Linked DNA regions of Homo sapiens. The protein of the gene in region 2 interacts with the protein of the main gene of each other region in a pairwise test. Each region holds a gene or a part of one and is shown on either strand. Other genes may lie near its edges.

Region 1 (3,500 bases), on a different chromosome or scaffold from region 2:
TGATTGCTCACAGCAGCCACAGGGCCTGCCCAGATTCAAGTGGATGGAGAAATAGATGCCAACCCTCGACAGGGGAGTGGCAAAGTCATACTGCAGACACACATGTACAATGCAAGACATTCTGCCACCATCTTAGAAAAATATAATCTGGCAGAAATTTAATTAATATTTAACTAAGCAAATCAAATGCCACCCGAAGTAAAACTCCAGAAAAATACAGAAAGGCGAGATCAATCTGAAGCATGTGGTCCAACTGCCCTGAGATCTTTCTTACCATTCTCTCACATTCTCAATATAACTACCTTTAAGCTCTTCTGCACATAAGAGGTTTCTAAAAGCAGCCTACTAGGTCCTCAAAGACTTCATACTTAAATATTATATTCCTTTTATATCCATTTTAAAACATCTAGAAGAAAAGGCTTATGATGCTATCGTCCATAAACATAGGATATAGATCTAAGCTTTGTTTTTTAAGATAATAGGCAATAATAACTAGTGTTTATTAAATATCTACTGTGTGTTAGAAATTTGTCTAGGCTCCAAAGAGCCTATATATTAACATATACATATATATATATACACACACACACACACGTGTGTGTGTGTATATATATGTGTGTGTGTGTGTGTGTGTGTGTGTGTGTGTGTGTGTGTATTCATATAAAATATATATCTCTCTATCCAAGCTACTTTCTAAGCACCTCAAGCTTTCACTCCAAAAGAGTGAATGTCTTCCAAGGACTATATTCTAAATGAAGCCATACATGTATAATACATACTAAGAAATCCTCTTACCTTGTCTTGGTTATCTTTATTCTTGTAACACAGATTTCCAATCAGACGAATGAGATGAGACTTAAACCCATTGGCCACATTGGAGATGTCACCTTCTGCTCTCACGCAACCACAATTACTGAAGATGTTTGTGGTTTCTTTTCCAGCTACATGAATCACCCGCAAAAGATCTATAACCAAAAGAGTAAACTTCATTTTCCACAGAAAAGTAACTTTTAGTATGTTGTACTAATAGTTTTCCATAGACAAATCTAATTTATTGTAATAGGCTAAAGGTAGAGCACAGAAAGCTTTATTTAAATAATGATTACAAGGCTCTTCTGCCTTTGCTTCAAAAAATGATTAGAAGGCTCTTCTGCCTTTGCTTTAAATTTTTTGACTCTAGTTTTGGGGAGATAAGCCATAATGACTACCCCAACTCAGAGTTTCTATTTATCTACAAAAAAAGTTAGCTAAAAGTTTGCTAGCATCCTTCTTACAAAAAGGTTTCCAATCTCAACTTCTTTATGAAAGAACTTTTCTAATAACTTCAGTCAATGAAGTCTAAAACACAATATCTATCCATAATGATGCATATGACAGAAACCAAGAAGAGTGCTTATTTTTCCCTCATCCAACTGGCCAAATCATCAGAAGCCAGCATATGTTCTCTATACTTCACTCCAGCTACATTCAGGAGAAAGAACTTACCACTGCTCTACTCTATGAGCACCTCCAGGCAGCCAATGAAAACAGACAATCTTCCAGGAACTGCATTTCAGTGTTTCCACATTATCTCATTTAACCCTCTCAACAAACCTATACAGGAAGGTATCACTTTCCCAATTTTATAATGAAGAAAACAACAGGCTCAGAAAAGTTGGCACCTGGCAGAGCTGGGATGGCAACCCACATCGACCCTGGCTCCAAACTCAGGCTCCTTCCATAATCACTCAAGTGTGCTAGGTTTGTGGTGTTTTATTTAAATTATCACTAAAAGCAATGTACTCAAAATACAACACTGATGAGGAATTCTAAGGATCTTCCTCTACAGCTGACTGCTAGCTCATCTATACTGCTAGACACAAAGTCATCTTTCTCAGGACACTGGTCTCCAGAGTAAGTATCATCTTTTTAAAGGAAAAAATTGCAAATAATGAACAGCAAACCTAAGCATGGCTAGCCACAAGGAACAGGTTCTACTTGAATTATTTTGCAAACAGCTTTTTAGCAAGGTTGGTAATACTTTTAACAATGGTTTCTTGTTTAAAACCTTTTTCTCATAAGATTTGTATATATAATATGTATAAAACACCATTCTATGTGTTCACTAAATGTAAATGGGAAAAATTTACTGCCACATTTTACAAAGCTATAGTAATATAAAACCACAATCATCATCGCAAACCTGCCTGCCCCACCTTCTTCATCACATCCTATATTGATGAAACATCTACTATATGCATAACAGGCATTGTTATCCTCACATTACTGAGAAGGAATCTTCAGTTAACAGAAGGGAAGTGGCTGAACAAACACATGGGCTCAGGTTTATCTGGCCTGCCTGAACTGTTACAACACTGTGATTCCTCTCAAAAAAATATATTCACAAAATTCCCAAAGTACACTGAAAATTAAGGATTTGTATTTGGATTTATATTACAGTATGACAAGCCAAAGATTTCTTAGCTAAAAATACAATGTGTGATATTTCACTCACCAATCACTCTTTCCAGCAAGCCAGGGAAAACCTGCAGATAGCCGAGCAGCTCAGTATTCACAGTCATTTCGCACAGGACGTCGAGAAGCCTAATTGTAGCCAGTGCCTCCTAGAAAGAAAAGAAAACATAACTTTTTAGCATATTTTAAGAGAAATTATTTAACTGTTATAAATAACTGTAAGAGAATAAAATATTTCAATAAATTTAAAGAGTCTGTGCTTGTAATAAGTCAAAGAGAAAAACAAAACTATGAAGAACAAAACAGAAGTATGAAATATGTACACGACTCATCATTTTCACTAACAGCAGACATCTGCCATCAAGAATGCAAGATTATGTGTCATTATGTGTCTTCTTGGAGCAAAGAGTCAGAAAAGTTCTTATTCAAGCAAAAAGACATTCCAACAGTGGAATAAATGTTCAAAATTACTAGCTATGTACATGACATTTATGCAAATACTTTCTTTTTAAAGCATTCCCAGCATGCAAATTCCACTTTAAAGATACAAATATCCCATAAAATACATTAATTTCTTGTCCACAGAAATCCTGTAAAATGCTGTGGTTGAAAAAACTCTGGCTTTAAGAACTTGCATAATTTCTGGGTAAATATGAACTTCTATGCAATATCTTGGTAGATTAGAAAGACAGTACTGTTTGAAAATGCTACTTCACATAGCTACTAAATAATTTATCAAATACACTGCATGACCAAGAAACTACCCAGTACCAACTGCATAGCATTAAGTAGTCTATACAAAAATTTTAAATGTAACTTTTGTATAGATTTTGAACCCCATTTTTAAAGTACCCATCATTTGACAAAATGTGGCAGAGATTATAAAGTTAGTCCATAAAGATAACATTCTTCACATTGGGAGGCCGAGGCCAGAAGATCACTTGAGGTCAAGAGCTCAAGATCAGCCTGGTCAATATGGTGAAATCCCGTCTCTAGTAAAAAAAAATATAAAAATTAGCCACGCTTGGTGGTGGGTGCCTGTAATC
Region 2 (3,500 bases):
TCCCAGCACTTTGTTTCCAAAATCATTTCCTTCTATATTGCCATTTATCCAAGGCTACTAAAATCCAACCAAGAGAAATCCATGTTCTTTTTCTATCAATTTTTTCATACTATTTAAACATTAAGCTTTGGTCCTTATGGCAAGAACCCTCACCATCTTTTTGACCAGCTTCTTCATTTCTTGAGCCCCTACTATTGCAGATGCATATGCATCACAGCCTCCATTTTTCTTTCTTCTGCCATTCCGTTTACCTTGAAGCCGGCTGTCTTACAGGATAAGACTGAGCACTCTAATTGGTTCTCAAGTCCTAAATATAATCAATACTAAGATATGATTCCTGTCTATTGTCAATTAAATCATTAATAACCCATAAGCAAAATCATAAATTCATAGCAATGAATATTGGCAGAAATTTCATTGTCATATTAAGAATCTTTTGAAGCATAATCACTGTGAAATTTACATATTTTTTAAGTTTTACATGCATGTTCTCTTAAGCTCTTTCATAAAACATAATTAATACTGCCATAGTTGTTATTTATAGAAATTTCCTAAATGTAATTCTGTCTGAGAAACAACGAAGTGAAGGAGGAGGGAAGAATGAAGAGGAAGACAGGAAAATGAGAAGGAATAGAAGAAGAAAGAAATTTTAAGTAGACTCACCTCCAACCACCCTGGCTTCTTCCAGTATTTGATTGAATAGAGTTAAAGACAGAATCTTGACTTCTCAGAGGACGAGAAACTGAATGTGGTATTTGCCTTTCAAGGGAATATGTCTTGTTAAATATTAATAGTTTGCTTTCAAATTGAGAAATTAAGATATACGTAGAAGAACAACATCAGTTAGTAACAGACACACATCCAATGGTTTATATTTCTCCACATACCCGGTGTCCACTGTTTTCATTACAGGAGCCAACTCTGGATTCACAGCTTCCCAGGCCCAATCTCAAAAGATATAAGTAACATAGATAAAAGTAAGATAGGTAGTATTTTTCAAAATGATAAATTCATACTTATTTAATTTGGAGGGTTTAAAAACTTGAAGAAGAAAAAACTTGAATATATGGATTTCTTCAACAGTACTTGTTGGAAAACCTGTCACAGCCTGCTTTATTAATTTTTATAGATGTCTTTCTTATCCATTGTATTTTAAGCAAAGATAATTTAATCTGTATCTTTTCTACAATCAGTTCTAGTATAGTATCTTTAACTTTGTAACATGAATTTCATCTAATCCAATGTTTACTGAACTTTTAAAATCTCACCCACAGAAAGAAATACATCATAACTCAGAACATATACATGCATGATATATGTGTGAGACAGAGATAGAGAGGAGAAAAAAGAATATAAAACTTCATCAAATCTTATCCTTAATATGTGTGATACACACTGACACAGTCATGTGTCACTTAATGACAGGGATACAGTCTAAGAAATGCATTGTTAGGTGAGTTTGTTGTGCAAACAACATAGAGTGTACTTACACAAAGCTGGAGAGTACAGCTTGCTACACACCTAGGCTATATGTTACAGCCTATTGTTCCTAGGCTACAAACTTGTGCAACATGTTACTGTACTCAATACCACAGGCAATTGTAACATAATAGTATTTGTGTATCTAAACATATCTAAACATAGAAAAGGTACAGTAAAAATATAATATAAAAGATAAAAACCAATACACCTAAGAGGGCACTTACCATAAATGGAGCTTGCAGGACTGAAAGTTGCTTTGGGTGAGTTAGTGATTAAGTGGTGAGTGAATACGAAGGCCTAGGACATTACTGTATACACTACTGTACACTAAACACACCATACATTTAGGCTACATTTATAAAAAAAAATAAACTGTGCTATGACATTATGACAGCTACTATGTCACCAGGAGACAGAAATGTTTCAGCTCCATTATATTTGTAATGGCACCACCATCACACAGGTGGTGTGATTGACCAAAACATGGTTATGCAGTGCATGGCTGTATTTTCTATTCTACTCTATTCTCTTCTATTTCTTTTTTCAAAGATCGATTATACCTCAGACTGATTAATGGATCAAGACAAACATTTTAAAAAAACACTGATCCTCTCCCTCTCCCTCTCCCTCTCCCTCTCCCTCTCCCTCTGCCTCTCCCTCTGCCTCTCCCTCTCCCTCTCCCCACGGTCTCCCTCTCCCTCTGTTTCCACGGTCTCCCTCTCATGCCAAGCCGAAGCTGGACTGTACTGCTGCCATCTCGGCTCACTGCAACCTCCCTGCCTGATTCTCCTGCCTCACCCTGCCGAGTGCCTGCGATTGCAGGCGCGCGCCGCCACGCCTGACTGGTTTTCGTATTTTTTTGGTGGAGACGGGTTTCGCTGTGTTGGCCGGGCTGGTCTCCAGCTCCTAACCGCGAGTGATCCGCCAGCCTCGGCCTCCGGAGGTGCCGGGATTGCAGACGGTGTCTGGTTCACTCAGTGCTCAATGGTGCCCAGGCTGGAGTGCAGTGGCGTGATCTCGGCTCGCTACAACCTCCACCTCCCAGCCGCCTGCCTTGGCCTCCCAAAGTGCCCAGAGTGCAGCCTCTGCCCGGCCGCCACCCCGTCTGGGAAGTGAGGAGCGTCTCTGCCTGGCCGCCCATCGTCTGGGATGTGAGGAGCCCCTCTGCCTGGCTGCCCAGTCTGGAAAGTGAGGAGTGTCTCTGCCCGGCCGCCGTCCCATCTAGGAAGTGAGAAGCGCCTCTTCCCGGCCGCCATCCCATCTAGGAAGTGAGGAGCGTCTCTGCCGGGCCGCCCATCGTCTGAGATGTGGGGAGCACCTTTGCCCCGCCGCCCCATCTGGGATGTGAGGAGCGCCTCTGCCCGGCCGCGACCCCGTCTGGGAGGTGAGGAGCGTCTCTGCCCAGCCGCCCCATCTGAGAAGGGAGGAGACCCTCCGCCCGGCAACCGCCCCGTCTGAGAAGTGAGGAGCCCCTCCGCCCGGCAGCCGCCCCGTCTGAGAAGTGAGGAGCCCCTCCGCCCGGCAGCCACCCCGTCTGGGAAGTGAGGAGCGTCTCCGCCCGGCAGCCACCCCGTCTGGGAGGGGGGTGGGGGGGGGTCAGCCCCCCACCCGGCCAGCCGCCCGGTCTGGGAGGTGAGGGGCGCCTCTGCCCAGCCGCCCCTACTGGGAAGTGAGGAGCCCCTCTGCCCGGCCAGCCGCTCCGTCCGGGAGGGAGGTGGGGGGGTCAGCCCCCAGCCCGGCCAGCCGCCCCGTCCGGGAGGGAGGTGGGGGGTCAGCCCCTCCACCCGGCAGCCACCCCGTCTGGGAAGTGAGGAGCGTCTCCGCCCGGCAGCCACCCCGTCCGGGAGGGAGGTGGGGGGGTCAGCCCCCCGCCCGGCCAGCCGCCTCGTCCAGGAGGTGAGGGGCGCCTCTGCCCGGCCGCCCCTACTGGGAAGTGAGGAGCCCCTCTGCCCGGCCACCACCCCGTCTGGGAGGTGTGCCCAACAGCTCATTGAGAACGGGCCATGATGACAATGGCG

What was found. Proteins that work in one complex are often made in the same cells at the same time.
Region 1: the proteins of SPATA22 (region 2) and ATXN10 interact in binary tests that used the Homo sapiens proteins (3 or more experiments, as listed by UniProt).

What each region holds. Positions count from the first base shown.
Region 1 is NC_000022.11:45,737,834-45,741,333, reverse strand, and holds part of ATXN10 (ataxin-10), read right to left. Parts: intron 2,604-3,500; coding exon 2,495-2,603; intron 966-2,494; coding exon 796-965; intron 1-795. UniProt on the Homo sapiens protein: May play a role in the regulation of cytokinesis. May play a role in signaling by stimulating protein glycosylation. Induces neuritogenesis by activating the Ras-MAP kinase pathway and is necessary for the survival of cerebellar neurons.
Region 2 is NC_000017.11:3,461,820-3,465,319, forward strand, and holds part of SPATA22 (spermatogenesis-associated protein 22), read right to left. Parts: intron 949-3,500; coding exon 888-948; intron 760-887; coding exon 664-759; intron 1-663. UniProt on the Homo sapiens protein: Meiosis-specific protein required for homologous recombination in meiosis I.